7 linked regions of the Homo sapiens genome follow. The protein of the gene in region 1 purifies or fractionates together with the protein of each later gene. This does not show direct contact. Each region holds a gene or a part of one and is shown in the gene's direction. Other genes may lie near its edges.

What was found.
Region 2: the proteins of FBXO9 (region 1) and EEF2 purify together in Homo sapiens (affinity purification with mass spectrometry; 2 studies listed by BioGRID and IntAct, with this or other methods). This does not show direct contact.
Region 3: the proteins of FBXO9 (region 1) and RICTOR purify together in Homo sapiens (co-immunoprecipitation; one study listed by IntAct). This does not show direct contact.
Region 4: the proteins of FBXO9 (region 1) and ATP6V1A purify together in Homo sapiens (affinity purification with western blotting; one study listed by BioGRID). This does not show direct contact.
Region 5: the proteins of FBXO9 (region 1) and YAP1 purify together in Homo sapiens (affinity purification with western blotting; one study listed by BioGRID). This does not show direct contact.
Region 6: the proteins of FBXO9 (region 1) and CUL1 purify together in Homo sapiens (affinity purification with mass spectrometry; 4 studies listed by BioGRID and IntAct, with this or other methods). This does not show direct contact.
Region 7: the proteins of FBXO9 (region 1) and RPTOR purify together in Homo sapiens (co-immunoprecipitation; one study listed by IntAct). This does not show direct contact.

Annotation. Positions count from the first base shown.
Region 1 is NC_000006.12:53,071,128-53,075,745, forward strand, and holds part of FBXO9 (F-box only protein 9), read left to right. Parts: coding exon 1-16; intron 17-2,353; coding exon 2,354-2,512; intron 2,513-4,618.
Region 2 is NC_000019.10:3,978,444-3,982,492, reverse strand, and holds part of EEF2 (elongation factor 2), read left to right. Parts: intron 1-68; coding exon 69-247; intron 248-440; coding exon 441-546; intron 547-1,040; coding exon 1,041-1,154; intron 1,155-1,513; coding exon 1,514-1,652; intron 1,653-1,783; coding exon 1,784-1,979; intron 1,980-2,426; coding exon 2,427-2,685; intron 2,686-3,056; coding exon 3,057-3,164; intron 3,165-4,049. UniProt on the Homo sapiens protein: Catalyzes the GTP-dependent ribosomal translocation step during translation elongation.
Region 3 is NC_000005.10:38,951,597-38,956,214, reverse strand, and holds part of RICTOR (rapamycin-insensitive companion of mTOR), read left to right. Parts: intron 1-510; coding exon 511-620; intron 621-1,353; coding exon 1,354-1,441; intron 1,442-2,661; coding exon 2,662-2,754; intron 2,755-3,123; coding exon 3,124-3,230; intron 3,231-3,789; coding exon 3,790-4,019; intron 4,020-4,618. UniProt on the Homo sapiens protein: Component of the mechanistic target of rapamycin complex 2 (mTORC2), which transduces signals from growth factors to pathways involved in proliferation, cytoskeletal organization, lipogenesis and anabolic output.
Region 4 is NC_000003.12:113,805,716-113,810,094, forward strand, and holds part of ATP6V1A (V-type proton ATPase catalytic subunit A), read left to right. Parts: intron 1-3,619; coding exon 3,620-3,712; 3' UTR 3,713-4,379. UniProt on the Homo sapiens protein: Catalytic subunit of the V1 complex of vacuolar(H+)-ATPase (V-ATPase), a multisubunit enzyme composed of a peripheral complex (V1) that hydrolyzes ATP and a membrane integral complex (V0) that translocates protons.
Region 5 is NC_000011.10:102,217,647-102,222,264, forward strand, and holds part of YAP1 (transcriptional coactivator YAP1), read left to right. Parts: intron 1-4,618. UniProt on the Homo sapiens protein: Transcriptional regulator with dual roles as a coactivator and corepressor. Critical downstream regulatory target in the Hippo signaling pathway, crucial for organ size control and tumor suppression by restricting proliferation and promoting apoptosis.
Region 6 is NC_000007.14:148,796,056-148,800,673, forward strand, and holds part of CUL1 (cullin-1), read left to right. Parts: intron 1-1,756; coding exon 1,757-1,804; intron 1,805-1,881; coding exon 1,882-1,964; intron 1,965-2,516; coding exon 2,517-2,622; intron 2,623-3,219; coding exon 3,220-3,333; intron 3,334-4,446; coding exon 4,447-4,527; 3' UTR 4,528-4,618. UniProt on the Homo sapiens protein: Core component of multiple cullin-RING-based SCF (SKP1-CUL1-F-box protein) E3 ubiquitin-protein ligase complexes, which mediate the ubiquitination of proteins involved in cell cycle progression, signal transduction and transcription.
Region 7 is NC_000017.11:80,963,184-80,967,317, forward strand, and holds the end of RPTOR (regulatory-associated protein of mTOR), read left to right. Parts: intron 1-1,078; coding exon 1,079-1,147; 3' UTR 1,148-3,185; downstream 3,186-4,134. UniProt on the Homo sapiens protein: Component of the mechanistic target of rapamycin complex 1 (mTORC1), an evolutionarily conserved central nutrient sensor that stimulates anabolic reactions and macromolecule biosynthesis to promote cellular biomass generation and growth.

The DNA of each region.
Region 1 (4,618 bases):
TGAAACAGATCTGCAGGCATGTTTCTTCAATTGTGTCTTTGATTTTTATTCCATTGTTCCCATACATATGCAGAAATTGATCATAATCATGGGTATTTGTAGGTTATTACTGTTTGCATGGAATTTAACTGTTTCCATACTGGTTTATAGAATACTTAAAACTATGTTATGGCTTTCTTTGTGAAAAGAAATATCAATAATGGTTGCTTGTAGTTTAACATGGGTTTAAAGTATTCAAACTAAGGCTTACGCATGACTCAAAACCCATAATCTTAAAAAGATTGATGGGTTTGACCACCTAAAAGTTTAAAACCTGTGTATAAGAAAAGGCATCATAAATAAAGTTAAGAGAAATAGCCAGCTGGAAAAACTGTTTATTATATATGGGCAGAGGATTCATCTCATTACATAGAGCACTCATATATTTGGAAGAACAGAGGATAAAAAGATATGAGTGGACTGTTAATGGCAAAATAATACAAATGGCCATTAAATATTTGAAGAGATAATTAGCCTCATTAATAATTTAATCAGATTGGTGAATAATGTGCATCGCTGTCCAAGCTGTGAGAACACTCATGCAGTGTACATGAAAATGTAAATTGGTACAGCTTTCTGGAGGGCAGACTGGTGATATGGATCAAAATGAAAAACATGCATTCCCTTGATACAGCAATTCTACTTCCAGGAAATTAATTTTAAGGAAATAGTGGGGAAAGTAAATATGCAACTATAAAGATGTTTAGTATAGCATTGTTTATCTGGAAAAACATCATACAACTTAAATATTCATTACCTGTTATTAAGTAATGATGCATCCATACAGTGAAAACACTACAGCCATTTAAAAGGATGAAGTAAATCTTTATACATTAAAAGAGAAAAAAAGTTGCTGTAACTAGTTAAGTGTGTCTCACTGCACTTGTAAGGTTAATAATAATTATTTGGAACAGCTCATCTAGTAGACATTGAATGCTGCTAAAGATTCTGCAGGTCAGAGATCTATGTGTAACAGGTTAAAAGCGTAGCAACAAAGCAGTGTACAGAATATAGAGAAAAATTAATTTAAAACATTCTAGATACGTCTTTTTTTAAAAAAAAAAAAGGAAGCCAGGAATAACATATGCATCCCTGTTAGCAATGGCTGCCTTTGGGCAGAACGTGTAACCCAGTTTGGGTTCCCCAGGAAGCAGACTAGGTGAAGATTGCTGTGCAGGAAGTTTATTAAGGAGTATTCTTGGGATCAACACCTATGGAAGGGAGAGAGGGAAACAAATGGGCAGGGAGAAGACCAGCTGCAATGCAGTCTTAATGGACTGCTTAGCCATCCTCGAGGGAGTTCTGAAGATGAAATACCCTTTCAGAGATGACCTGAGTTGCAAAGAGCCAAGACTTTATTAGCCGTTGATCAGTCATTGGGTGGGGATTGAGAGGACAGTGTGATTTTGCTGAGGCAATACCCAAAAGGGCTGACAACTCAAGTGTTTTCAGATAGAACTCTCAGCAGTTTGGGTAACAAGTTCTTTATTTCTGAAAGGGAATCTGGGCAACACACCAGAGTCTACCTTATAGGGTTCACTTTTTATGTGCTTTTAATTTTTTTTTTTTTTGAGATGGAGTCTCGCTCCATTGCCCAGGCTGGAGTGCAGTAGCACGATCTCTGCTGACTGCCAACCTCTGCCACCCGAGTTCAAGCAATTCTCATGGCTCAGCCTCCCAAGTAGCTGGGATTACAGGTGCCCGCCACCACACCTGGCTAATTTGTTTGTATTTTTAGTAGAGACAGGGTTTCACCATGTTGGCCGGGCTGTTCTCGAACTCCTGACCTCAGGTGATCCGTCTGCCTCGGCCTCCCAAAGTGCTGGGATTATAGGCATGAGCCTCTGTGCCTGGCCTTTACATTTTTGAAATAACAAATATTTGAAAAAACATTTTCTTTTTGAAATACAGAATGTTAATAGATTTTGGGCTTACCTACAGAATTTTTGGCAGCATTCTTAATGTCTACTAGATGATATAGTCATTAAAAAATTATTGGAAGCTTATAACTTCAGTCTGTAAGTGATGGCTTATATTTTCAATTCTAATTAAAATTTGGTTTTCCAATATAATTTGACTTTTGGTGTACTGACATGTATTTTATGCTAATTTTCTTGATTCTTTAAGTTTTGAGCAGAAAATTATTTTAAAAGATGTATTTAATGGATATTTAATAATTCAGAAGACAGTGATTTCTGGACTTAGAGTAATAAGTATATACGTGGAAGTAGATAGATGTTGGACATATTGATACATTGTTCCAGAGTTGAGCTACCCTTCCTTGATGAGTCCTAAAATGCTGTTCTCCCCATAGGCACAACTCCAGATGTTCCGAGCTCAGTGGATGTTTGAACTTGCTCCAGGTGTAAGCTCTAGCAATTTAGAAAATCGACCTTGCAGAGCAGCAAGAGGCTCTCTCCAGAAAACATCGGCAGATACCAAAGGAAAACAAGAACAGGCAAAAGAAGAAAAGTTAAGTATTATAGATATTGTAACAAATTACATTTTTTTTTTTTTGGCACATGGAAATTTTCACTGACACAGTAAGTAGGCATTATAACCAGACTTTCGGGACATAAACACATATCTTGTAAAATAAAAATTTTGACTAGTATACTAGTTTATATATTTCTCACAATTTCTTCTAGGTACTTTGGATGGTACCACTACTCCTGCATGGCTTTTTTCTCTGTGGGTACACTGTCTTCATTGAGCTGTCTTTTGTTAATTTATAGACCTCTGGGATTCATGTGGTTCCTAAAAGATTGGTGTCTCTGAATTTATTAACAGAACCAAAAAGAAAAAACAGAATTTTCTAAATTTATTAATAGAACCAAAAAGATTGCTCACATGTTAATGTCTTTCCAGAGGTCTTAATTTCATGCAGTATTTTGTTATATTTTGAATTGATCAGCTTACAATAATGCATTAATCATTTCCTTATTCTGGAAAATTTTGAAATATTTTCACACTGAAAATATTTTGAATGCTGTCTAACATTCATATCTCTTCTGGTACTTACTCACACAGAGTAGGCACAGCATACCATTTCATTTCTTATTCTTCTTCCATAGAGGCTGCCATCTTTTTACCATCAGATCCAAGTTTGTGTTTATAATTAGTCATCAAATAATTGGCATTACCATGATGACTTACCTTCTATCTCCTCTTAATTTTTATTTTGAAATAATTACAGGTCCACAGGTATAGGGAAGTCCTGTGTGCCCTTTAACCTCCTCCGATGGTAACAACTTGCATAACTATAGTACAATATCAAAAACGAGGAAATAGACATTGGAACAATCCACAGTTTACTTGGATTTCCTGAGTTTACAAGCACTTGTCTGTGTGTATGTGTATAAATAGTTGTTTGCAGTTTTATTACAAGGTAGCTTCATGTAACCACCACCACAATCAAGATACAGAACTGTTTTATAGTTATATACTCCCTTTCCCTAGCCATTCGTAACCACTGGCAACCACTAGTCTGTTCTCCATTTTGTAATTTTGATATTCCAAGAATGTTGTATAAGTGGAATCATCCAGTATGTAACCTTTTGAGATTGGCTTTTTTCACTAAGTATAATTCCCTCAAGATCAGTCCAAGTTACTATGTATCAGTAGTTTGTTCCTTTTTATTGCAGAATAGTATTGCATGGTATGGATGTACCCCAGTTTAACCATTTATTGGTTGAAGGACATTTGAGTTGTTTCCAATATTTGGCTGTTATGAATGGAGCTATGGAAATATGTGTGTAGGTTTTCTCATGAACATAATTTTCACTTCTCTGGGATGAAACCCCAAGAGTACAATTGCTAAGTTCTATAGTAAGTACATGTTTGATTTTAAAAGAAACTGCCAAAGTGTTTTCTAGAGTATCTTATATTAAGTTCCCACCAGCAATGTATGAGTGATCCAGTTCATCCTCATCAGCATTTAGTGTTGCTACTTTTTAATTTAATTTAATTAATTTATTTATTTATTTTAAGACAGAGTCTCACTTTGTCGCCCAGGCTGGAGTGCAGTGGTGTGATTCCAGCTCACTGCAACCTCTGCCTCCCGGGTTCAAGCGATTCTCGTGCCTTGGCCTCCCAAATAGCTGGGATTACAGGCCCCGTCAGTAACGCTGGGCTAATTTTTGTATTTTTACAAATTTGTATTTTGTATCTAGAATGCAAAAAGAACTTCCAAAACACAATATTAAAAATATTAGCAATCTAGCTGGGTGCGGTGGCTCACTTCTGTAATCCCAGCACTTTGGGAGCCTGGGGTTTCACCATGTTGGTCAGGCTTGTCTCGAACTCCTGACCTCAAGCAGTCTACCTGCTTCAGCCTCCCAAAGTGCTGGGATTACAGGAGTGAGCCACTGCACCTGGCCTTTAATTTTATTAATAGCCATTCTGATAGGTATGTAGTGGTATCTCATTGTCATTTTAATTTGCATTTCTCTAATGGCTTGTGATGTTGAACATCTTTTCATGTGCTTATTTTTCATCTATTAATATATATTCTCTCTCTGAAATATCTGTTGATGTCTTTTCTAATTGGATTACATATATATATATAATTATTTTTTTT
Region 2 (4,049 bases), on another chromosome or scaffold:
GCCCAGCCCGTAGCTTCAGGCTCTGCGCAGGGGCCCTCACGGCTGCTTCTCGTTTCTCACACTTCCAGATCGATCCTGTCCTCGGTACCGTGGGCTTTGGGTCTGGCCTCCACGGGTGGGCCTTCACCCTGAAGCAGTTTGCCGAGATGTATGTGGCCAAGTTCGCCGCCAAGGGGGAGGGCCAGTTGGGGCCTGCCGAGCGGGCCAAGAAAGTAGAGGACATGATGAAGAAGCTGTGGGGTGACAGGTGAGCCCCGCGGGATATGGTGGGGGATTCCTGACACCTGGGGGTAGTGGCAGCGACGTAGGGGCGTGGTGTGCTATTCACAGCGTGGCTCAAGCCCACCAGGTCTTGCCCAAGCATGTCCCCTTGGCGACCACCCTCCCCAAGTCATCCCCTGGAGACCCTAACTTGATTTGGCTTGGCCTCTCCTTGCCAGGTACTTTGACCCAGCCAACGGCAAGTTCAGCAAGTCAGCCACCAGCCCCGAAGGGAAGAAGCTGCCACGCACCTTCTGCCAGCTGATCCTGGACCCCATCTTCAAGGTGAGTGAGGGCTGCGCCAGGCACCCCGCCGATGCGACTATTGGCCCTCGGCCCTGTGGGCTCCGGCCGGTAGCCTGTCGGCTGACTGGGCCCGTCTCCTTGTGGGGCAGATGCGAGATGGGAGGAGGCACAGCTCCTAACTGAGGTGGAGTCAGGGCTCCTCTCTTAAGATCTGGACTGCATAGCCAGAGCCTTGGGACCTCTCCTGCATTGAGGGGGTTGAATAACTTGTGGCTTTGGCGGTTCAGTGCTTGTAAGTCAGAACTTGGGTCCTTGTCTGAGTCAGAGTGGGCTTTTTCCTCTGCTCCACCACGAGGTTTCCTCCAGCTCCCGATCCGCTCAGCTGGCTGGGCCCGTGGTAGGCAGGCCAGGCCTGCTCCTGCTCCCGTGCTGCGTCCCCCTGCGCTGACCTGAGTCTTCCAAGCAGGAAGCAGTGCCAGGCTTCCTCCTGCTGTTCCCAAATGGGCTTTCTTGTTTCTTGGTGGGGAATGTAGGTGTTTGATGCGATCATGAATTTCAAGAAAGAGGAGACAGCAAAACTGATAGAGAAACTGGACATCAAACTGGACAGCGAGGACAAGGACAAAGAAGGCAAACCCCTGCTGAAGGTGCGGCCTGGGCCCAGCCCTCGGGGTGGAGGGAACACAGGCTGCTGTTTCCGGATGCTCTGACAGCCCAGGCCTGGGGGCTGAAGTCCTCAGCTGGGCAGGGACAGCTGCTGCCCCTTTCGCTTTAGACTCTGGGTGCTGCTGGAGACACATCCCAGCAGCCAGCCCCATCCGGGACAGGTGTGGGTGAGGGCCTTGGCAGGAGTGTGCATGGCCTTTGCCGCCTTCCAGAAGGGACTGTGCTTTGGAGAACGTTAGTCCTGACTTTGGCTTCCTTGGCTTCAAGAGAGGAAGCGTGTACGGGGTGGGGCCATCCTGGGCTCCCCAGGTGTCTCATGCACCGCTCTCTGCCCCCGCAGGCTGTGATGCGCCGCTGGCTGCCTGCCGGAGACGCCTTGTTGCAGATGATCACCATCCACCTGCCCTCCCCTGTGACGGCCCAGAAGTACCGCTGCGAGCTCCTGTACGAGGGGCCCCCGGACGACGAGGCTGCCATGGGTACGTGGTCCCGGTGGCCGGGCCCTGAGATGCAGCCGGATGACTTCCTGTTGCCCAAGGTTGTGGGTTGCAGGGTTCCAGAAGGCTGAGCTGCACTGGAATAAAGCTTGCGGGTTTTCTCTGTCCCTCAGGCATTAAAAGCTGTGACCCCAAAGGCCCTCTTATGATGTATATTTCCAAAATGGTGCCAACCTCCGACAAAGGTCGGTTCTACGCCTTTGGACGAGTCTTCTCGGGGCTGGTCTCCACTGGCCTGAAGGTCAGGATCATGGGGCCCAACTATACCCCTGGGAAGAAGGAGGACCTCTACCTGAAGCCAATCCAGAGGTGAGCAGCTGGGTGATGTGCAGGCCCCTTGGCACTGTTGCGGGCCCTGCCCTGCTCCAAGTCTTGGGCTCCTCAGTCGGGAGCTAGAAGTAAGGAGCATAGAAGGAATATAGGGTGATACTTGTGCCAGCCACAACTTTTGTTCTTAGCCCAGTGAGGGCATTTCTGGAGAAGCTCCAAGCCCCAGGGCACAGCACACCCCTGCTCATCTGTGTCCCTGGGCACAGGTGGGTGGCGGCCGTCGACCCATACCCAGGGAGGAGGGCAGTGATTCTGAAGAGGATGTTTCCTGACAGCCCCGACGCAGCAGTCAGGGCCTTGTGGAAGCCACCAGTCTGCCCTGGGACCTGGCAGGAGGGCCACCAACTCCGGGAGGGACCTGCCCTGGCCCTCCAGGGTCCAGCACAACCATCCCTGCGGCCTGCTGCCGCCTTCTGCTTCTTCCAGAACAATCTTGATGATGGGCCGCTACGTGGAGCCCATCGAGGATGTGCCTTGTGGGAACATTGTGGGCCTCGTGGGCGTGGACCAGTTCCTGGTGAAGACGGGCACCATCACCACCTTCGAGCACGCGCACAACATGCGGGTGATGAAGTTCAGCGTCAGCCCTGTTGTCAGAGTGGCCGTGGAGGCCAAGAACCCGGCTGACCTGCCCAAGCTGGTGGAGGGGCTGAAGCGGCTGGCCAAGTCCGACCCCATGGTGCAGGTGGGCACGGAGTGCACCTGCTGGGAGCAGACACCCTGAGGGGGGACGGCTTGTGTCCTGAGTTGTGGCTGTGTGGGTTGCTGTGGTTGGTGGATTGGGGTGACTGGTCATGAAAGGAGGGGTTCTTGGCTGTGGCTGTAAATGGAGACTCCTGCCCAGGCAGCCACCACCCTCTCCTAGGCTGCTCTGCGCGTGTTCACTGTAGCTTGTGGGACTTAACATTTCTTCAGGAGTTTGTGCTGGTCCCAGTTTCCCAGCACCTTCCCTGAAATCTTGTTCTGGCGGGGTCCCTAGCTAAAGGGAAGCTGGGAGCCTGGTCCCGCCTGTTCCGAGCCGCCTACCCCTTTGGTGCTGACCCGCATCCCTTTCAGTGCATCATCGAGGAGTCGGGAGAGCATATCATCGCGGGCGCCGGCGAGCTGCACCTGGAGATCTGCCTGAAGGACCTGGAGGAGGACCACGCCTGCATCCCCATCAAGGTGAGGCGCCAGTGACCAGCCTTCCCCACGCCCCACCCCGGACACCTGCCCTCTGCTTTAAAGCTGAGCTGAGCTAGGCTCTGCAGACGCCTAGACTTGATCTCGGTCTTGGTCTCAGCTTCTTAAGTTCCTCAAGTTTCTTCTTTGCAGTCTTCCACAGGCATGTGGGGCTGTTTTTGTTGTTGTTGTTGTTTTTTTTGAGATAGTCTCGCTGTGTCATCCAGGCTGGAGTGCAGTGGCGTGATCTTGGCTCGCTAGAACCTCCACCTCCCGGGTTCAAGCGATTCTCTTGCCTCACTCAGCTTCCTGAGTAACTGGGACTACAGGCGCGTGCTACCACGCCCGGCTAATTTTTTTTTGTATTTTTAGTAGAGGCGGGGTTTCACTGTGTTAGTAAGTCAAGATGGTCTCGATCTCCTGACCTCGTGATCCCCCTGCCTCGGCCTCCCAAAGTGCTGGGATTACAGGTGTGAGCCACCATGCCTGGCCCAGGGCTATTTTTTTTTTTTTTTTTTTTTTTTTTTTGAGACAAGAGTCTTGCTCTGTTGCTTAGGCTGGAGTGCAATGGCGTGATCTTGGCTCACTGCAAGCTCTGCTTCCCAGGTTCACGCCATTCTCCTGCCTCAGCCTCCTGTAGCTGGGACTTCAGGCGCCTGCCATCATGCCCGGCTAATTTTTTGCATTTTTAGTAGAGACGGGGTTTCACCGTGTTAGCCAGGATGGTCTGGATCTCCTGACCTCGTGATCCACCCGCCTCGGCCTCCCAAAGTGCTGGGATTACAGGCGTGAGCCACCACGCCCGGCCTCCGGGGCAGTTTTTGAGTTACATCCTGCTGTCTTCTGTCCACAAACAACACAAATGCTCTGGAGGGGTTGGGACAGGCC
Region 3 (4,618 bases), on another chromosome or scaffold:
AAGTTTAGAAACAAGAATTGATGAGTGCCTGAACTTCACTGGTAGTTAGGTTGATTAGATGAGGACGCATTTTCTGGGTATTTTCAAAATAAGATGGACAGAATTTGTGGGCTGATTGGATACAGTAAATAAGAGGTCCAACTTGGCTCATAAGGTTTCTAATTTAATGACAATATATAATGGATCACTATTAAGAGATCACATTTATAAAAAGTGATTCAAGATTAGGCTAATGAATTTTCAATATGTTGAACTGGCATTGTCTGTGCAGTAACCACGTGATGGCTTGAAAATGTGGATCTGGAGCTCAGATTTGTGAGGAAAATGGCAGATATGGGGGTCATTAGTATATAGTACTAGTTGAAACCTGAGCCAAAAGCTTATGGATATGATAGAACATTTGCATTCATAATACCTTGATCTGTCTACCCTTTGCTAAGTATCTGACATATTTTAAATTTAGTGACTCATTGTGATACTATGTGCAATTAAAACAATATTATCCTCTAGGAATACAACTCCAAATATGTTGACTTGATTGAGGAACAACTCAATGAAGCACTTACTACTTACCGGAAGCCTGTTGATGGTGATAACTATGTTCGTCGGAGTAACCAAAGGTGCGTACCCAGTTATCAGATTTAAAACTAGTTCATCATAAATTATTTTTAACATTTCTGAGTTTTTGTATATTCTGCTTCTAACATGATATAGGAAGAATCTTAATGCGCAGCATTAATTGCTCAAAAATTCAGTGGCATTCATGGCATGTTGAATATCCTTACTGATAACGCATTCACATATACTCCATGCTGGCACCCCAGTCTGTATTTCTAGGCCTAGATTCTCTTACCAGTACTTTGAGCTCTGATAAACTGTTACAGGTTGAACATCACTTATCCAAAATGATGAAATGTTTCGCATTTCAGATTTTTTCAGATTTGGAATATTTGCATATATATAACGAGATACCTTGGGAATGGTACCCAAGTCTAAACATGAAATTAATCTGTTTCATATACGCCTTATACACGTAGCCTAAACATAATTTTATGCAGTGTTATAAGTAATTTTCTGTATGAAATAGTTTGCATTAAATACTAATGTGTGGAATTTTCCACTTACAGTGTCATGTCAGTGCTCAAAAAGTTTTGGATTTTGGATCATTTTGGATTAGGGAAGCCCAGCCTATATTTTACCTGAGAAATCCTCATTCCTTGTTACTTTCATATTTTTATTTATGCTGGAGAGTTGTATCTAATTTTATTTATCAAACATTTATTAAAATTCTTTTGTTCTAATTAGCATATTTAAATTAGCCAAGAGATATAGTAATCATCTTTATTATACTAGATTACAGCGTCCTCACGTCTACCTGCCTATACACCTTTATGGACAACTAGTACACCATAAAACAGGCTGCCATTTGTTGGAAGTACAGGTAAAAACATAATTCACTTATTTTAAGTAGCTACAATAGTAAAAAAAAAACAAAATCTTAACATTGCTAAAATATTACCTTTGCAAAAACTTCTCAAAAGCTTTAATATCAGTGGTGTAATTGCTTTTAAATTCATCTATTTTGTAATTGACTTAGGCATTCTATATTTATTAACCTGAGAAATATTAATGGCCTTGCAATGCATTAACTGACTTGTGTATGACTTTTTGAATAACTAACTTGTTATGTAGAGTAAGCAATCCAATGAAGATCTGAGTTCTTTTTTTAGAGTTTAGTGGAGAAATTCAGATCTCCAAAAACGTACTGAAAAACCGAGTTTTTCTTCCACTCATTGGGAAATTAAACTGAACCTAATACAGATTAAGTTATCCTTGTTGAGCAATAAATTGAAAGTTGCTGGTTGTGAGCACATTTTATTCTCGCGTACTTCATGGAATGTTAACAAGCATAGGCAAGCAGTTGTTCTTTGAGTTATAATATGTACACCGCATTTATGGTTGTGAATATGTCATGCAACTGTTTCCAATAAATGTAACGTTTCTCTTATTTTAGAAATAAAGTTATAGGAATATTTGTTTTTGTGACAGAACAATAGTTATTTAACAATTTAGTTCCCGATTGTATCAGTATTCATCTCAAGAGCACAAAGTTTTGCATAAATGTACTCTATAGTTTCATGTGTTTTTATATTACGTCTGTGAAAACTGTTGGGACAAGTATTTTCATATTAACATTTGAAAATTTCACTAAAAATTTAAATGATTTTCTCAGTGTTACTACTTACATAGTATGATAAAACCTAAGCACTAATTTACTTTCTGTTTTAAAGAATAAGTATGATTATTTAGTAATACTAAGTGCCAAGTACTTTGGTAAGCACTGTATGTGCAATAATTTATTAAATCTTGAAACCTTATGATGCAAATGTTATTATCACTCTTCTAGATATTAGGAAATCAAAGGATGAGGAGATGAAGTAACTTGCCCAAGGCCATGCAGTTAATAAGTGATAATTCTAGAATGTGAATTCAGAACCCCTGCCCTATGCTGCTTCTCAAGAAATTTTACATAAAATTATTTAGAATTTAAATATGCAAAAATGACAAAAAACAAACGTTATACTGGTTTTATGATGCAATAATAATATATTAAATACATAAATATATTATTACTCATGGTATTTTTTTTTCTTTCTCCAGAATATTATTACAGAACTCTGTCGTAATGTTCGTACACCAGATTTGGATAAGTGGGAAGAAATTAAAAAACTGAAAGCATCTCTTTGGGCCTTGGTTTGTAATAAACACTTCTGTAAGATCTTCGCAATTTTTAGATTTTTAAGTTTTTTTTTCATTTATACTAAATAGATAAATATTTTCTTTGGAACTACTTATTAGATTAATATTTAAGACTGGATTGTTCCTGCCAATATAAGTGTATTATCTCTATGTTGAAGAATAGATGGTTGAACTATTGGTTTCATGACTTTTGTTTTGTTGCTAAGACAACTAGAATTAATTCATGCCTAATGTTTTGTACTTGAGGAGGCTTTTACATTTTTTCTCTCTCAGAGATGAGGTTAAATTTGTTTCTTGGTAGCTTTCCAAATCTTTTGAAAGAGTGACTCTTATATTTGATGTAAGTGATTTCTTTTCTTTCAGGGAAATATCGGCTCATCAAATTGGGGTCTCAATTTGCTACAGGAAGAAAACGTGATTCCAGATATACTAAAACTTGCAAAACAGTGTGAAGTTCTTTCCATCAGAGGGTAGGTCATTTAACTCAGAAATCTTTCTAATGTAGACGTTGTTATTCACAAATGGATGTTAGGGGAAAGTATTTTATGATTAAGTGCAATGCATAACTGTTAATCCACTGAAAGTTCTAATGATACAAGATTATTAACTGTATTAAGTTAAACATCTAAACGAACTCCTTGTTTACTACTATAATTTGATTTTTATTATATTGAAGTTTACCTTGTAGGTAACAGGTAAGGCATAGTGTTGTACAGATACTCCAGTATTCCTGTAACCCAGCTGTTCCAGATTTATACTAGAAAAGCTAATATACCTTTTTTGCTCATGTTGCATTGTGTTCTTTTTATTTTGTTGTAATTACTATTTTTATTGGGAAGGTTTGCTTGTTTTTTATTGCTGCTAATTTATTCCTGACTAGTCTTAATAAGTTTTTTTTTTTCCACAAACGCAACCATTTTGGTGGGTTTTAGAGAAAGTTCAAAGTATGTATAGCAAATTAATCTGTGGTGGCTTTAAGAAATCTCAGCTTGGAATTATAACTGTTTTTACTGCATCTTTTATATACAGGACCTGTGTATATGTACTTGGGCTCATAGCTAAAACCAAACAAGGCTGTGATATTCTAAAATGTCACAACTGGGATGCTGTGAGGCATAGTCGCAAACATCTGTGGCCAGTGGTTCCAGATGATGTGGAACAACTCTGTAATGAACTTTCATCTATCCCAAGCACTCTAAGTTTGAACTCGGAGTCAACCAGCTCTAGACATAATAGTGAAAGTGAATCTGTGCCATCGAGTGAGTATCCTGACAGGTTCATATAAAGTTAGCCAATGTTAACATTTATATTTGAATTTTAGAATTTAAATGTATTTGTTACATTTGTAATTTGCTTTTGTCTAAGATAATTATTTGGCAATAATAGCCTCTTGGAGAATGTGTATATTTTCATAACAAAGAGTATAATCACCAGCTTACATTTTTCTCTCTCCTTATATTCTAAGTAGCTTTTGAGGATTCCTACAAAGTTATGTAATAAGCCATGTGCCAGAAGAACCAGTCCTCCTTTTTTTGACAGAAAAGAAACAAATATAACAAGTATTTATTTGTCTACCTTCTTTATTTAATCTTTTTACTCATTTTTCAGATACTGAGATTGTTGAGCCAGAATATATTTTTAACTGATATTATATTCACATCTTCATTTTTGAGAGAAGCACTAAATTTTAAAATAGTGAAATTGTTAATAGAGTAACAAAAATAGTTATATATAAAATGATTTGTGGTTTTAAGTCCTGTGCTAAGTGGTGTTAGGTGTACAAAATTTAAGGCATGGTTCTTCCTTTTAAGAAGATAGTGTCAGCTTTATCAGACTGTGTATTTCACCAAATCTGAGA
Region 4 (4,379 bases), on another chromosome or scaffold:
GTGCCAGCACGCCCAGCTAATTTTTGGATTTTTTTAGTAGAGATGGGGTTTCACCATGTTGGCCAGGATGGTCTCGATCTCTTCACCTCGTGATCTGCCCGCCTTGGCCTCACAAAGTGCAATGCTTCTTTTTAATTTTTCTAGCTATTTTGAGTCCCAAACCTGGGCTGTAAAACTTGCAGTTATTTTCACACATGTTCAGGTTTTGTAAAATCAGTAGAGACCTCAAAGTTATGTTCAAATAGGAATTCTAATGATAAAAATTAGTATATCAGCCAGGCATAGTGGTTCTCATGCCTGTAATCCCAGCACTTTCAAAGGCTCAGGCAGGAGGATGACTTGAGCCCAGGAGTTCAAGACCAGCCTGGGCAACATGTCGAAATCCCGTCTCTACAAAAAATACAAAAGATTAGCCAGGTGTGGGGCACACACCTGTAGTCTCAGCTATCTGGGAGGCTGAGGTCAAGGCTGCTGCAGTGTGCCATGATCCCACCACTACTCTCCAGCCTGGGCAACACAGTGAGACCCAGTCTCAAAAAACAAAAAAAATTAGTATGTCACGTCTAAAATAAATGCTGATGTGTATTCCCTTTTGTCTTAGTTGCCAGGCAAATTAGAGCTTACTTCATAGCTGAGCAACAGTTGCCTTACTCCAAGTGCCTATTAACCTCTAGCACATGTGTTCTTCTGAAATGACATCTTCTCTGTTTACTTCTTTTAAATATCATGTACTGCAGGTCATTTTTTAACTTTTTTTTTTTTTGAGACAGTCTTGCTCTGTCATCCAGGGTGGAGTACAGTGGCACAATCTCGGCTCACTGCAACCTCCACCTCCTGGGTTCAAGCGATTCTCCTGCCTCAGCCTCCCAAGTAGCTGGGATTACAGGTGCCTGCCACCACGCCCAGCTAATTTTTTGTATTTTTAGTAGAGACGGGGTTTCACCATGTTGTCCAGGCTGGTCTTGAACTCCTGACCTCATGTGATCTACCCGCCTCGGCCTCCCGAAGTGCTGGGATTACAGGCGTGAGCCACCGCATCCAGCCATTTTTTAACTTTTAAGTGGCCTCTTGTTCTTTTGGAAGTACACAAGATAAAAATAGATAATTAAATGAAATTATTAGTAGGAACTCAAATGTATAAGATTGTTTTTAAAATATTTGATCAGTTGAATTGTATTTATTTCTGTCATGACATCCAGGCATATTTACTAACCACCTACTGAGAATGATTCTCTGAGTGTATATGTAATATAAAAATTTTTAAATTATATATATATTTTGTGTGTGTGTTCACACTATAGATTGAAAGTAAACCTGTACAAATAGGTAAGCACTACATTGAGAGTTTAAAAACATTTACACCTTTTTAGTCTTGTCATTTCACCTTGAGATAAATAAACAAAGGAAGTAATCAGAATTTTGATACGGATATACACGGTCGTTTATTAAATTCTTTTTCTTTTTTTTTCTTTTTTTTTTTTTGAGATGGAGTCTTGCTCTGTTGTCCAGGCTGGAGTACAGTGGCACGATCCTGGCCCACTGCAACCTCCCCCTCCCAGGTTCAAGCAGTTCTTCCTGCCTCAGCCTCCCAAGTAGCTGGGATTACAGGTGCATTCACCACACCCAGCTAATTTTTGTATTTTTAGTAGAGACGGGGGTTTCTCTATGTTGGCCAGGCTGGTCTTGAACTCCTGACCTCAGGTGATCTGCCTGCCTCAGCCTCCCAAAGCGCTGGGATTACAGACATGAGCCACTACGCTAAACCAAATTTCTTAAATGTCACCCAAGAATGAACAGAGCCAACAGTACATTATGGTGTGTCCATAAGATAGATATTATGAAGGCATTACCATTTTTGTCAAAAATATTCAAAGACATGGAGAAATGCTTATGGCACAGAGTGAAAAAACTTCCATATGTAACTTGATCCAAATATTGTCTTAAAAAACTATATATTCATAGAAAGAGGATGAAGAAGAAATATACCTGTAGTAATGATGATTTCTATTTACATGCTTATTGTGTCAAATTAACATCACAGGTATTTTTTAATGTCATTACTCTTCTGTAGCATTGTTTTGTGGCTGGAGAGTAATATTTTTCTATTCTTAGACACTTAGAAAATTTCCAGTTGTTGGCCGGGCGCATTGGCTCACGTCTGTAATCCCAGCACTTTGGCAGGCCGAGGCGGGTGGATCACCTGAGGTCAGTTCTAGACCAGCCTGACCAACATGGAGAAACCCCGTCTCTACTAAAAATACAGAATTAGCTGGGCGTGATGGTGCATGCCTGTAATCCCAGCTACTCAGGAGGCTGAGGCAGGAGAATCACTTAAGCCCGGGAGGTGGAGGTTGCGGTGAGCTGAGATCACACCATTGCACTCCAGCCTGGACAACAAGAGCAAAACTCTGTCTGAAAAAAAAAAAAAACAAAGAAAAGAAAAGAAAATTTCCAGTTATTGGTGTGGACAACCATGTAGTTGTGTGTAGTTGGTTTTGTGCATTTTCTTAGTATGGAGTCCCAGAAGTGGAATGATTGGGTTAGAGACCTGGAACATTTTAAAGTCTGTCTCTTTTTTTTTTTTTTTTTTTTTCTGAGACAGAGTGTCACTCTGTCACTAGGCTGGAGTGCAGTGACGCGATCTCAGCTCACTGCAACCTCCGCCTCCTGGGTTCAAGCGAGTCTCCTGCCTCAGCCTCCCAAGTAGCTGGGACTACAGGTGCACGCCACCATGCCCAGCTAATTTTTTTGTATTTTTAGTAGAGACAGGGTTTCACCATGTTGGCCAGGATGGTCTCAATCTCCCGACCTTGTGACTCGCCTGCCTCGGCCCCCCAAAGTGCTGGGATTACAGGCGTGAGCCACCAAGCCTAGCTAAATTATCTTTTATACATATTACTCAGTAAGTTGCCTAAATTTTACTTTTCCATCCCAGTGTGATAATACCAGATGTTGAGCAAATTCTGTTTTGATTAAATTAATTCCTAATTATCATGCATTAAGTCATGTTCATCTAATATATGAAGCGGCATAATTTCCCACTATTGTGCACATTGTTGAGGATAAAGGCTTTGGTCACTGAATGTGGTTATCAGGCAAAATGCAAAATTAAAATTTTGTTTTCTTTCTGTTTGGTTGGATTTGTATCCTTAAGAAAAAGGGAAAATGAGTATAGTTTTACCTCCTGCCTGTGGTTTACCAGTGTCCCTCACTAAACCTAGTACTCAAAATATATAAAATACGAGTAACCTGGGCCAGGTGCAGTGGCTCACGCCTGTAATCCCAGCACTTTGGGAGGCCGAGGCAAGTGGATCACTTGAGATCAGGAGTTCAAGACCAGCCTGGCCAACATGGTGAAACCTGTCTCTACTAAAAATATGAAAAAAAAAATTAGCTGGGCGTGATGGTGGGCGCCTGTAATCCCAACTACTTGGGAGGCTGAGGCAGGAGAATCACTTGAAGCCAGGAGGTGGAGGTTGCAGTGAGCCAAGATCGTGCCACTGCACTCCAGCCTGGGTGACAGAGCAAGACTCTGCCTCCAAAAAAAAAAAAGTAACTTAACATACGTAATGAAAATTATTTTCCAAATGCGAGTTGAATTTGTAATGTCTTCTTTCAGGATCCACTGAAAGATGGTGAGGCAAAGATCAAAAGCGACTATGCACAACTTCTTGAAGACATGCAGAATGCATTCCGTAGCCTTGAAGATTAGAAGCCTTGAAGATTACAACTGTGATTTCCTTTTCCTCAGCAAGCTCCTATGTGTATATTTTCCTGAATTTCTCATCTCAAACCCTTTGCTTCTTTATTGTGCAGCTTTGAGACTAGTGCCTATGTGTGTTATTTGTTTCCCTGTTTTTTTGGTAGGTCTTATATAAAACAAACATTCCTTTGTTCTAGTGTTGTGAAGGGCCTCCCTCTTCCTTTATCTGAAGTGGTGAATATAGTAAATATACATTCTGGTTACACTACTGTAAACTTGTATGTAGGGTGATGACCCTCTTTGTCCTAGGTGTACCCTTTCCTCATCTCTATTAAATTGTAAACAGGACTACTGCATGTACTCTCTTTGCAGTGAATTTGGAATGGAAGGCCAGGTTTCTATAACTTTTGAACAGGTACTTTGTGAAATGACTCAATTTCTATTGTGGTAAGCTCATTGGCAGCTTAGCATTTTGCAAAGGAATTGCTTTGCAGGAAATATTTAATTTTCAAAAACATAATGATTAATGTTCCAATTATGCATCACTTCCCCCAGTATAAATCAGGAATGTTTGTGAGAAACCATTGGGAACTATACTCTTTTTATTTTTATTTTTTATTTTTTTTATTATTTTTTTTTTGGGGACGGAGTGTCCCTCTTGTTGCCCAGGCTGGAG
Region 5 (4,618 bases), on another chromosome or scaffold:
TGAAGTAGGGGAGGTGAGAAGTAGTGGGAGAAAATTTTGAGGATGATTATCTTTTTTTTTTGAGATGGAGGTTCGTTCTTATTGCCCAGGTTGGAGTGCAATGGCGCAATCTCAGCTACCAGAACCTCTGCCTCCCGGGTTCAAGCGATTCTCCTGCCCCAGCCTCCCAAGTCCTCCCGAGTAGCTTGAATTACAGGCACCTGCCATCACACCCAGCTAATTTTTTGTATTTTTAGTAGAGACGGGGTTTCTCCATGTTGGTCAGGCTGGTCTCGAACTCCCAACCTCAGGTGATCTGCCCACCTCACCCTCCCAAAGTGCTGGGATTACAGGTGTGAGCCACTGCACCCGGCTGAGGATGATTATCTTGATTGTAGTGGCAGCTTCACAGGTGTACACACATGTCAAAACTCATCAATTTATGCACTTTATAATTTATTGTATATCCGTTATATATCAAAAAGCTTTTCAAAATTTACTTGGAATATCTAATCACCTGTAACTAAAAGTTTCAAAACTCAGCTGAGTATTTATACCTTTAGTATGCTATCCATAATCTGCATATATGTTATTTGTATCATTGGCCTTGTTACATTAGAGTCATCCCTTGGGGGATTGGTTCCAGCAAGTCCCTTATATAAAATGGCATGCTATTTGCATATAACCTACACACATCCTCCTGTATACCTTAAATCATTTCTAGATTACTTATAATACAATGGAAATGCTATGTAAAGAGCTGTTACACTGTTATAACTGTGTTGTCATTCTGTATTGGGAATAATGGCAAGAAAAATAGTCTATATATGTTAAGTACAGACACAGCCTTCCATTTTTCTTCTCGAATATTTCGATCCATACTTGGTTGCCTTACGGATATGAAAGGCTAACTATATTTGTTTTCATGCCAAATTCTTCCCTATTTGATTAATAATACACTCCTGCCACCAGTAAGTAAAGTGTCTTTTTTTCATTGATTCTTTCAAGTCTAATTTAGGTGAATCCTTAGGTTAGTTACTGTTAGTCATGGCTCAAATATAGGTTTAATGAGAAGAGTGTTTCCATAGCCCTTCAAGGGGTCGGATATCTCCTTAGGTAACTTGGAATGATTTCCCTGCTTACTGACATCTCTAAGTTATCTTTCTTTATAAATCTGCATAGTTGGTTCTGCAGTGTCTGCTGACATAGAAATTCAGTTGTTAAATGAAGTAAAAAGTAAAAATTTCACGGCTTTTAACAAACATAGTGGCCAAATTCAAAGCAGCAAGAACATGGAGAGTCTAGTCTGCACATGATACTAGTTTTAACCTAATAAAAAGTAGGAATTTTATTTAAAAGGCTAAAATAAAAAGTTGTAAAAATAATATGAAAATTATAGCCAATTCAGTTATTTTAGTTATGACTTACAGTTTAGTGTTATATATTTGTTTTGTGCTACAAACAGGAGCATACCTTCTTTGATAAAAAGCAAATGAGAGTCTTTAGAATATTCTCCAATACTCCCATGTTTGTCACAGAACCCTAGGCATCAGCCTTTTCTGGAGTCTATAATTTTATTCATTTTAAAGTTTATTGTTAAATACATCCTCATATTTTAAGAGCAAAATAAATTCTTCAAGGAATTTTAAGTTGTTTTATGCTCCAGAGTAATTCATTCACTCTGGCCTTAGGGGGTACAGCAAAAATAATTACGATATTTTGTGATAAGTGCTGTGTTCAGGATGTTAAAGACATGACATGTCTGTGTCTAATCCAATCTCAAGATCGAGATGGGATCACCACGGAGAGTTTCTTCAAAAAGGTAGTGCCTTCACCAGGTCTTAAATAATACGGAAGAAAGGCATGGTATTGAGAGGATGTGTCCTCCCACAGACAGACTACAATGAGTGTAGTATCACTGTTTTAAAGTCACTTCTCACTTTGTAAGATGAGCATGGGAGGAGTCAAAAGTAGAAGATAGAAAAGAAATAAGAGGGATCCCCATAAGACTGCAAGAAAAGTTAAAAAGATGATGAGTATAAATGAAGTTACTTTTGAGGCAAGCAGGAAGAGGTGGCAAGAGGGGCCAGAAAAATCAAAGATTATACCTGATGACCTGGTTTTTTTTGTTTGTTTTGTTTTTTGTTTTTTGTTTTGAGACAGAGTCTCGCTCTGTCACCTAGGCTGGAGTGCAGTGGCGCAATCTCAGCTCACTGCAACCTCAGCTTCCTGAGTAGCTGGGACTACAGGCATACGCCACCACGCCTGGCTAATTTTTTTATATTTTCAGTAGAGACGGGGTTTCACCATGTTGGTCAGGCTGGTCTCCAACTCCTGACCTCAAATGATCCGCCCACCTCAGCCTCCCAAAGTGCTGGGATTACAGGCGTGAGCCACCACACCCAGCCAATGGCCTCAGTGTTCTAATGTAGATGGAAAAGAAATAGACATGGACTTCACTGGCTGGGCATGGTGGCTCACGCCTGTAATCCTAACACTTTGGGAGGCCAATCGCTTGAGCTCAGGTGTTAAGACCAGCCTGGGCGACATATAGTGAGACCTTGTCTCTACAAAAAAATTTGGAGGAAGAGAAAAGAAAAGAAATGGACTTCCCTGAATAGGGGCTTGAGATAGTATGCCATATTTGGAGTAGTGACCATGAGGATGTGAAAAACAACTGACCAAGAACAAAACAAAACAAAAAAACCAATAAGTGGTACTAGGGTCCATCCAAAACCAAAGACCTTTAATTTGTAATGATAACATTCTGGATAGTTATGTGATTTCTTTTTTTTCTTTTCCCTTAGCATTTCTCAGCAATCTCAGAATGAAAATGGAACAAATACACTTTGGCATTGCTTTGGGGTTGGGATTTGCTGGGCTGAGATAAAATTATATGTACATCAGGAATCTAAAAGGTGCTTATGCTGTTTTGAATGATCAGTCATGAATTTAAGCTTGTAGGGAAGGAGAAAAAAAAATAAGATACCAAAAGACAGCCAATAGACTAGACTAGTAAGGAGAGATGGGTCTGGAGTCTCTGAGGTTGGAGGGCTGGTAGAGTGGACATGAGTCTATGCAGGAACTGGTTAGAAAAAAATGTGAGAAAGTAAAATAAGTGCATGTAAGATTTTGGGGAGAGAAGTTTCTAAGCCAGTTCTTGGGTATGACTGAGGGAATTAATGATTGAAATACAGTGATGAAGTGGTCAGTATCATTTCGGTGTAAAGGCGATCCCGGCATTTCAACAATGGGTTATTATATGGGTTTTATGCATGGAGGTCATAATTCCAATGTGATGAATGCAGTTGGAATGAAGAGAAACACTGATCATCGTCTCAAAACATGACTTAAGATTTTAGAGTTGGTTTGGTTTCAAATAACAGGATCTTAGTGGCTGTGCAATGGGTGTTTGAGTGGAGTGGAGATGAAGGTCACTGGAATCCAGAAGGTTCAGGAAGCTGTCAGGTTAAGTGAATTGTCCATTTAATACTGAAGCATGTTAAGAGGCATGGAGAATACTTGGAGTGGCAAGAGGCTTTGACCAGACTCCAGAATTTTCCCGTATATAAGATGGAGTAACGAAGAGATCAGTAAATTTGAGTACAAGAAGCAGTTTACCTTGCAGGGAAGACAGGCAAACAATTTTGGCATTTGGCCAAGTCCCTAGGTTCCCTCTCAGGACATTGGTGTTTGTTTTTTTTTAAAGTACAGGATTGAAAAGAAAAGGAATTTCATTGATACAGTTAAGAAAATATTAAATAGAAACTTGTGATATAACGTGCTTCTTTTTAATGTATAAATAACAAGATCTAAGGCTGGGTGCAGTGGCCTATGCTTGTAATGCCAGCACTTTGGGCGGCCAAGGAGGGTAGATCATCTGAGCCTGGGAGATTGAGACCAGCTGGGCAACATGGCAAAACCCTGTCTCTACAAAAATACAAAAAATTAGCTGGGTATGGTGGTGTGCCTCTGTGGCTGCAGCTACTCATGAGGCTGAGGCAGGAGGATCACTTGAGCCTAGAAGGTCAAGGCTGCAGTGAGCTATAATTGCATCACTGCATTCCAGATTGGGTGACAGAGTGAGACCCTGTCTCAAAAAGATTAAAAAAAAAAAAAATCTAGAAGCACATCTTATAACGTAACTACTGTAGCATTGAAATAGCAATGATCATAAATGGTATTTTAAAATATTTGCAACAACTACAATGTGATATGAAAACATTTATATGTTCTATTGGTGAAAAGTTAGGTACAGTGAATACTAATGGTGCATACTACATTGGAGAAAATGTTGACAAATTTAGCGAAAGTTAATGTGTAATTTTTTTTTTTTTACCCCATTGAAGTTCAGAGACTCTCTGAATTCTGTCATGGTCCGCTGGTTAAGAAACTCTGGTTTAAAGGATGGTATATCCAGAAGGCATAAACCTAAAGAAAAATAAGTGGTATTTGCATGCAGGAGAATTGTAGTTTAGAAGTGGCAGCGTAGAGCTAGGAGAAGCTTTCCATACTTCAGGACCCCATGGCGATTGTGGAGGTGAGGGCTGGAGATGGTGGGGCCGTGCCTCAGTGAGCAGACTTGGCTCAGAAAGCTGTGTGGAAGGATGACGGAGTCAGGCCAGTATCCTTTGTGATA
Region 6 (4,618 bases), on another chromosome or scaffold:
TTATTGGGAAAGCTTCCAGTCTTTTACTGTTTAACTGTGATGTTAAAGAGTGATGGTGTTAGCTGTGAGCTTTTACTAGATGTCCTTTATCAGACTAAAGAGGTTCCCTTTTATTCTTAGTTTATTGAATTTTGTATCATGCAAGAGTGTTGTATTTTGTCAAAATGCTTTTTCTACTCTGTCAAAATAACTGCTTTTTTGTCTGTTAATATGGTGTATTGCACTGATGTTGAACCACCCTGGTGTTCTTAGGGTGAGTCCCACTTGGTCATGGTATATAATCCTTTTTCTATGTTGTTGGGTTTAGCTTGCCGGTATTTTCTCGAGTTTTGCATTTATATTCATAAGGGATATTGCTCCATTGTTTTCTCAAGATGTTCGTTTGGTTTTCGTGTCTGGCTAATCCTGGCCTTATGGACTGAGTTAGGAAAGTCATTTTGAATGACTATTTTGTAATCATTCTTCGAATTACTCCTAAATATATCTTCAGATTCTAATAACAAAATGAGTTTGTGCCTTTGTAGGTTGGAGGCCTGGTTGCCCCCTAGACTGTGGGGAGGGCTGTGCAGACGGGTCCTGAGGACAGGGCTGACAGGTGTGGACTGTCAGGTCTTTGCTTGGCTGCTTCTGATCAGGATTTTAGGCCAGTCTCCTGAGTGGTTCTCAGTGTTAGAACTCCCTCAGGAGGCTGCCGCTGCTCTCTCCTTTCTGCCCACAGTAGATGCTGTCCAATCAGACCTGGCTCAGGAAGTGGGCACCCCCGCACCCTGCTCTAGATGCAGTGGGCAGTATTCGAATGGCTGCTGGCAGTTCTGGGTCAGTTACTAGACTAGAGAGAGGCCTCTCGCTTTGACAGCTTTCACCACGTATCCTCAGACCAGAATGGGTACCCATTATGACGACAGGACTCCACTGCCCGTGGGTTGTAAGAGTCCGTGTGACTCTGTGAGTGCCCTCAGGCTGGTCCCTTGGATTTCATGGGATCATAAAGCTGTGAGGCTGAAGGAGGGCTGGGAAGCGTTTACCACACCCACCATTCACAGATGAGAGGCCACACAACGTGCTTGAGTGCATCAAAGGCAAGTTGACAAGGTCGCCTGCCGCTGAGCCCCACTGTTCTCATGAGCAGGACATTATTTTCAGTCTTGCTGGGCAGCTCTTTAATATTTCTTTTGTGATGATCAGTGTCCAAGATGAGCTGTCAGGCACTTAAGAAGTGAAGAGTTCCTGAAGATTTCATTGTGCATGGTTTCCAATACAGGTTCAACATCCCTAATCCAAAAATCCAGATTCCAGAATGCTCCACAATCCAAACATTTTTGAGCACCAACATGATGCTCAAAAAAAAAAAAAAAAAATGCTCATGGCGCAGTTGAAATTTCGGATTTTCCAATCAGGGCTGCTGAATCTGTAAATCCAGTGCAGTATTCCGAAATCCAAACACTTCTAGTCCCAGGCATTTCAGATAAGGGTTACTCAACCTGATTTAAGTATAACAGAATTGTTCATTTCTATTATTGTGTGATCAAGGCCAGAAAGGGGTTGATTTCACTTCTAGAAGTCAGGGTGGAAGGAAGCAGTAAATTTAGTGAACTTCTAAGAAGTACCAACTTTTTTTTCCTTCCAGCATACTCTTCTTTTGGGTGATTTTTTTTTTTTTTTTTAATGGAAAATGGACTGTGAGGTTGCCTGTGGTGGTTATTGCAAAGAAAAATGCATTTTCCCTTTAACTTCCTCTTTTTCTCTTTAATTGCAGGACATTTTGGCGCAAGTTTTACAGATTTTATTAAAGTCGAAGCTATTGGTAGGTTTGCGCCCTTTTATCTTACACTAGAAGAAGCCTTTTCCTGAGATTGTAGAGTAACAATTGTTTTCTTACAGGTCTTGGAAGATGAAAATGCAAATGTTGATGAGGTGGAATTGAAGCCAGATACCTTAATAAAATTATATCTTGGTTATAAAAAGTAAGAAAAATCTAATAAGTAGATGGCCCTTGACCATAGACACGTCCCCCGGGAGCCCTAGCACGGATCTCAGTATTGTTACAAACCAAGGGAGACCGGGGACTCAGTGTGAAGCGACAGGCACTAGGCTGGGAGTGTGAGGTAGGCCTTTGATTCCATTCAGCGAGCCTGATGTTTCTCCAATTCTGAGCTTCTGGGATTTTTATTATTTTGGCAAATAAGTCTCCTTAAATGGCTCACCAAGAAAGTTTGGACCTTTGTGTCCAAGTGGCTTGATTTTATCTCACTTGACAAAATTTGGGAGAGCAGATTAGGGACCTGGATTTTCTGTAATGTGGATGTCCCTGTTAATGGCCGAGTAGGAAACTAGGCCATGATCGGACTCTACCCAGTGCTGGGTAGAGGACATTTTCACGGAGAGCTCACAGAAATCAACATTCTCCCCTCTGTCTAGGGAAGCAGGGCACTTCTTAAAGGTTGAAAAATAGAAAGCAGCCTTCACTGCCTACCTTTTAATATAATAGTGATCGGTTTCCTCATTTTTCTTGATAGTAAGAAATTAAGGGTTAACATCAATGTGCCAATGAAAACCGAACAGAAGCAGGAACAAGAAACCACACACAAAAACATCGAGGAAGACCGCAAACTACTGATTCAGGTGACTTATCTGTATGCCTGTGCCAGGTGTGCTGTCCCTCACGCAGGGATGGCTCGCAAGGACGGGCCGTGGGGGGTAGGCGGGGGTGACAAAGGAGTGATTGCCAGATGAATGGGTCTGTGATGGCAGAAGGTGGCAAGGCCGAGAGCCAGGGCCTTGTTATCTGAATTAGTCCTTTATGTCACCAGGCAAAACAGGGCAGTCCTCTTGCTCTAAATGTTGGAAAGCAAACATTGTGGCAGGTTTGGCTGAAATGAGGGGGAAGGAGAGTTCTTCAGTGGGGAGGATGGGCAGCTTCCGTGGCCTTGAAGATTTAATTTTGTCTCCTTTTTTTTAATGCTTTATGGTTGAGTTAAATTATTGAGGTAAAATTGCTCAAAAGACCCAAACATTGTAATGTTTGCCACGTTAGAGTTGAAACATAGGCAGGTAGAATTGGTTCCCTCTCCCGTCTCACCTGCAGGATGTTTGTTGCCTGTTAGGAAATTGTGATCCTGTGCATAGGCGTCGGCAGCCTCTGTGCAGCTTGTCCTTAACTATCAATACAACGTTGTTACAGCTCTAAATGCACTTCTTTTTCCTTATCTTGTTGCATAGGCGGCCATCGTGAGAATCATGAAGATGAGGAAGGTTCTGAAACACCAGCAGTTACTTGGCGAGGTCCTCACTCAGCTGTCCTCCAGGTTCAAACCTCGAGTCCCTGTGATCAAGGTACAGGACTTTACATAGCAGTCACATTCCTTTCTTAATTTAGAAGATAAAAGATGTAGCAAAAAGTGGATTGATTGCTGTAGCATGAAGGAGGAGGGAGCTGGCTTCTTTGTATGTAGATTTCTATAAAAGAAAGTCGGCTTCAGTTTAACTGTTGAAACACACATACAAAGTGCACAGATGATGAAGTGCCAGCTTGATGACTTTCACAGTCAATACACTGTGTGATCAGCACCCAGGTAAGAATTGAAACATGCCCGGCATCCCGGAAGCCCACCCACCCCAGCCAGCACCTGTGTCCCATAGAAAATCACTGTCGTGTCTTCTGACACCATAAAACAGTTTTGCCTGCTTTTGCGTGATACATAAACAGATTCTAGAGCACACACTCCCGTGCCTGGTAAGAATTTCCTCAGCAGTATCTTCGGGAGGTTCGTCGCATTGCGGTATCGAGAAGCACTGGGTCGTTTTTGTTGCTTTTATGGGTGTTGTGTTATGGGAACACACCTTCCTTTATGTAGCCTACTGATAATTGACATTTTGCTTATTTCTGATTGGGTTTGTTTAAAATGGTAACTAAGCAGGACTTTCCTTTTCCTAAACCACTTGGGTAAGTCACAGCCAGTGGAGAGACTCAGGGGTGGCATTGACAGGTGACTTCCCCAACAGGCAGGAGGCCCAGTGTCCCTCCTGGGTTACATTTGGCACAGGTGCCAGTTCGTTCATGGCTGTTCAGGGAGTTCCCCACAGTCCCCTGTTCCCTGTTCATGGCCTCTTCTTGTGAGACTGAGTCCTGCCGCAGAGGCAGGCAGATTTTGGTGGTAGAAAGGGAGACTGGCCCACGGGGCTCCCGAAGCACCTGACTCCAGTTCCTAGGGCGGGTGCAGGAGGGACTCGGAGTCACCCTCAGCAAGTGTCAGGGAGCTCCGTGCATGAAGGCTTAGCTGCCAGGAAGTAAAACTCTATGCTAACAGATCTGGGGCGGGGACACTGCTCCCCACTGAGCTCCGAATCAGGGGAGATTTGTGGTGGGGGCAGCCTCTCTCTGTTCTGATGATAATTTGTGTTTTTCTTCTCTTTCACTACCTCTTCCTTTTTAAAAATAACACCCAGAAATGCATTGACATTCTAATTGAGAAAGAATATTTGGAGCGAGTGGATGGTGAAAAGGACACCTACAGTTACTTGGCTTAACCCTTCTGGAAGGGTCTGACTGTGTGACCCGCAGCAAATAGTTCATGTTGGAAAGAATGAAAACAACTCAAGTTCATAGCAGCCAGCCTGC
Region 7 (4,134 bases), on another chromosome or scaffold:
AGGGAGGGACTTGCCTGGGTCCCAGGATCTCTAGGGCCCCTGCCCCACCCTGCACTCGCCCCGGAAGCAGAGCCCCAGTCCCGTCACTCCGGGAGGAATTGACACACAGTGGCTGGGGCAAAGCTCCTGCCCTCAGACCCTGCACTAAAGCCATCCCTGGGGACCTCCAGGAGAGTCGCTCGGGGTGTCCATCCCTGTGCGGCCCTCACCCCGTCCCCTGTGCGGCCCTCACCCCGTCCCCTCTGCGGCCCTCACCCCGTCCCCTCTGCGGCCCTCACCCCGTCCCCTGTGCGGCCCTCACCCCGTCCCCTGTGCGGCCCTCACCCCGTCCCCTCTGCGGCCCTCACCCCGTCCCCTCTGCGGCCCTCACCCCGTCCCCTGTGCGGCCCTCACCCCGTCCCCTGTGCGGCCCTCACCCCGTCCCCTCTGCGGCCCTCACCCCGTCCCCTCTGCGTCCCTCACCCCGTCCCCTCTGCGTCCCTCACCCCGTCCCCTGTGCGGCCCTCACCCCGTCCCCTGTGCGGCCCTCACCCCGTCCCCTCTGCGGCCCTCACCCCGTCCCCTCTGCGGCCCTCACCCCGTCCCCTCTGCGGCCCTCACCCCGTCCCCTCTGCGGCCCTCACCCCGTCCGCTGTGCGGCCGAGTCCTCACCCTGTCCCCTGTGCGGCCGGGCCCCACCTGCACGGCTCTCTGGCCTTGGTTGCAGCCTCCCCACGTGGCTTCAGGCCGTTGTTTTTAGATTAGGATTCTGCCCACCTGCCGCCTTGTGTTGTGAGGCTCCAGGCATGTAGCTCTGCTGACACGTGTGACATTGGATCCCAGAGCTGCCCCGTGGGGCAGTCCTGAAAAAACCACGCAGGGCCCGGGGCAGCGCCACGCCCCTCACGGAGTGCACCATGCATGGGCCCTGCAGAGGACTGGTGGGACCGGCCCGGCATTTCCGGGCCTGAGGTGGGCGTGGGGGTTCCTGAGACCCCGGCAGGAGCTGCCTAAGGATGCGGGTTGGCCTGCGCCCCCCCGCCCCCCGCAGTGTCTGCCCGCACCTGAACCCCTGCTCACCCCTTCTCTCTCCTTGCAGCCTCACCTGGCCGTGGGAAGCAACGACTACTACATCTCCGTGTACTCGGTGGAGAAGCGTGTCAGATAGCGGCGTGACCCGGGCCCACCAGGCCACGGCCGCCTGCTGTACATAGTGAAGCTGTCACTCGCCGGGGCACGGGGCGTCGGCTGCTGCGGCCCCGCAGTGTGAACGTTGGCTGCTGCCTTAGCTGCTGATGACGGCAGGAGGGCCCTGCTACTCGCTTTTGTCTGTCTTCGCTGTCGTGTCTGGAATGTCAGGGAAGGGGAGGGCTCGGGTTGACGGTGGCTTCCCACTGAGCACCAGCATCCAGGTGCACCCCCGCGGCCACGGCGCCTCTGTCCCTCTCCTGTTCTGTGTTTCTCTGAGACGCTGAAAGGGGAAACACCTCACTTTATTTCCATGTAATCAGAGCATTAGCTGCAGAAAAACCCCCCGACAGAGCCCTGGCGGAGAGGCAGGCGCTGGGGCTCCTACGGGTCCCTGGGGCAGCTGTCCCCATCAGGCCAAGAGCGAGCGAGAGGCGCTGCCCCAGCCAGGCCCACCACCTCTCACAGTCAGTGCACGCAAGCAGGGACATTTCCTAGCCAGCTGGGGGACACTGGAAATTCGGGAAACCAAGAGAGAGGAAGAAGGAGACGCCCCTCCAACTGGCGGGTGTGAAGGAAGCCGCCCAGGGGTCCGGGCTGTCCTTGGCCGCTGGCAGCATCACTGAGCAGGAAGCGCACAGCCCACCCTCCCCGCACCTCCAGGTCTCTGGACTCCAGTTTTGGCCCCTCTCACACAGAGCTGTCAGCAGGGGCCGCTGTGGCGGTGCACAGGGGAGGCAGGTCCTTGGCGAGGTAGCCCCTGCCTTAATCCACGGGGCTCCTTTCCCTCCGAAGGGCTGCTCTTCCCCACAGGCGCGGGGACAGCAGCCCGACCTGTGGTCTCCATGCCTGTGCCCTCACACAGGTGTAGCACACGCATGTGCAGATGGCACCACGGCCGGCACCTGGGGGCACACACATGCAGGCGGCGTGGTCTCCCTGCTCTGTCCCCACACGTTCCTCACATACAGGCAAGAGGCACTGCCGGGTCCCGGACGGCTCCGGGTGACACCAGCCCCGTCTCCAGCCTTGAGCCGCCCATGCTGATGCGACCTCGGCTGACAGCTGGGCCTGTGGTGCAGACAGGAGCTGTGTGGACAGTCCCGCCCAGGAGGGGCCGCAGGGCGTGTATGAGCAGTTTTGCAAACAGAACACAACCACAATGATGGTATTTTGAAAAGTGTTCTTTCCGTGTTCGTCGGGAATCAGGATTATTGAGAGGTGAAGGAGCCAGGTGGCTTCATTCTGGCGGTGAGAGGCCCACGACCACGGGAGTGAGAGCTGGTGTGGCGAGGCCCGGCTCTCCTGCGGTGTGGCTGGTGGCCTGCCGTGGCCAAGAGCATCTTCTGGGTGGATGGAACCCTGCCTGGTCACATTTGGCCAGAGACACACCTGGCCCTCAGGGGGCTGAGCTGGAGACTGAGCTGGGGCTGGCCGGGACGTGACAAGGCAGGACAGAGGCGGCCCCTCCGCTGCTCCTTTTTGGAATGCGAGCTCCCACCAGAAGAAGGTTCCGGCACGAATCCCATCCCCACGTCTGGGCCGAGAAAGCAGCCCGGGTCCGGAAGGTGTAGAGAGTCCCGGCCTCACTCAGCTCACAGGGCGTGCCAGGCGGCAACACCAGAATCTTCCAGAAGCCCAGCTCCACCCGCACACGCAGCTTCCCATCCAGTCCTTCAACTCAATTCTTACCCAACACGCGTTTCTGTTTGTTTTGAGACAAAATCACCACCTGTCAAAAGGCAGGTGGCTCCAGAGGGGTCAAGACCCCCCCCCGCCCCCGCTCCACCCTGGAGCCCACCCCCATGGGCACCGCGTGCCGCCTGCACGTGGGCTGTCTTCACAGGTCTGATGTGAAAATTCAATCACGACGTTAACCGGCTCGAGAGAGCGCCGGCCTAGAGGCTCATTATCTATTTATTTTACCAAACGCGAATTGAGACGGACTTTGACAAAACACGAAATGGTAATGTGAAGCTAAGAGCAGAGAGTGACCAACAGTAAACAACACGCGCAGACTCCGCGGCTGGCGGCTGTGTCTTTAAGGAAACTGCCCACCCCACCTCAGGGGGGCATCGGTCAGAGCAGAGCTCTGGGGGGTGGGGGGACGTTGCCCGGGTCCCCCCTGCTGTCCCCAGGGCCACCAGCAGCTCTGCGTCCCGGGTGCTCTCCAGGCAGGCACTGTGGCCACAGGGGGCCTGGCACGTCGAGTGTGCAAAGGTCTCGGTCCTTTTCTCCCAGGCAGTGCCCCCAGCCCTGTGGCGCAGACCCCACATCAGGGAGCGTACTGTGTGGCAAGAGCCATCTTGTGACGTAGGCCAGACACGTGTCTTTCTCTTTAAAATGACGGTTATCCTCTCACGGTTAGAGGCCCCATTCAAGTCTGCATTGAAATCTGGGCCACGTCAGAGTTCCTGGGGGAGAAGCCGCTTCCCCGCTCCTCCCCACTTCTGGAGGCCCCCACTCTCCTTGGCTCGTGGCCCCTTCCTCCAGTTCAGGGCCTCTGACCCACGCCCACCGTCACCACTTCTCATGCAGGCCAGAAGTGTTTCCAGGCCTAGGGGCCGTACCCACCTCGGGCTGTGTGGGTCCTTAGCCCTAATCACATCTGCACATCCCTCTGGCCAACTCTTTTTGGGTTTGCTTTTTGTTTTGAGATGGAATCGCACGCTGTCACCCAGGCTGGAGTGCAGTGGCACGATCTTGGCTCACCTCAACCTCCACCTCCTGGGTTCAAGCGATTCTCCTGTCTCAGCCTCTCAAGTAACTGGGATTACAGGTCTGTACCACCACACCCAGCTAATTTTTATATTTTTGGTGGAGACGGGGTTTCGCCATGTTGGCCAGGCTGGTTTCGAACTTTTGACCTCAGGTGATCCACCTGCCTCAGCCTCCCAGCGTGAGCCACCACGCCTGTCCCCGTCTGGCCAATTCTTGAAAGGCTCCCGTTTCCAGATCACACTCTGC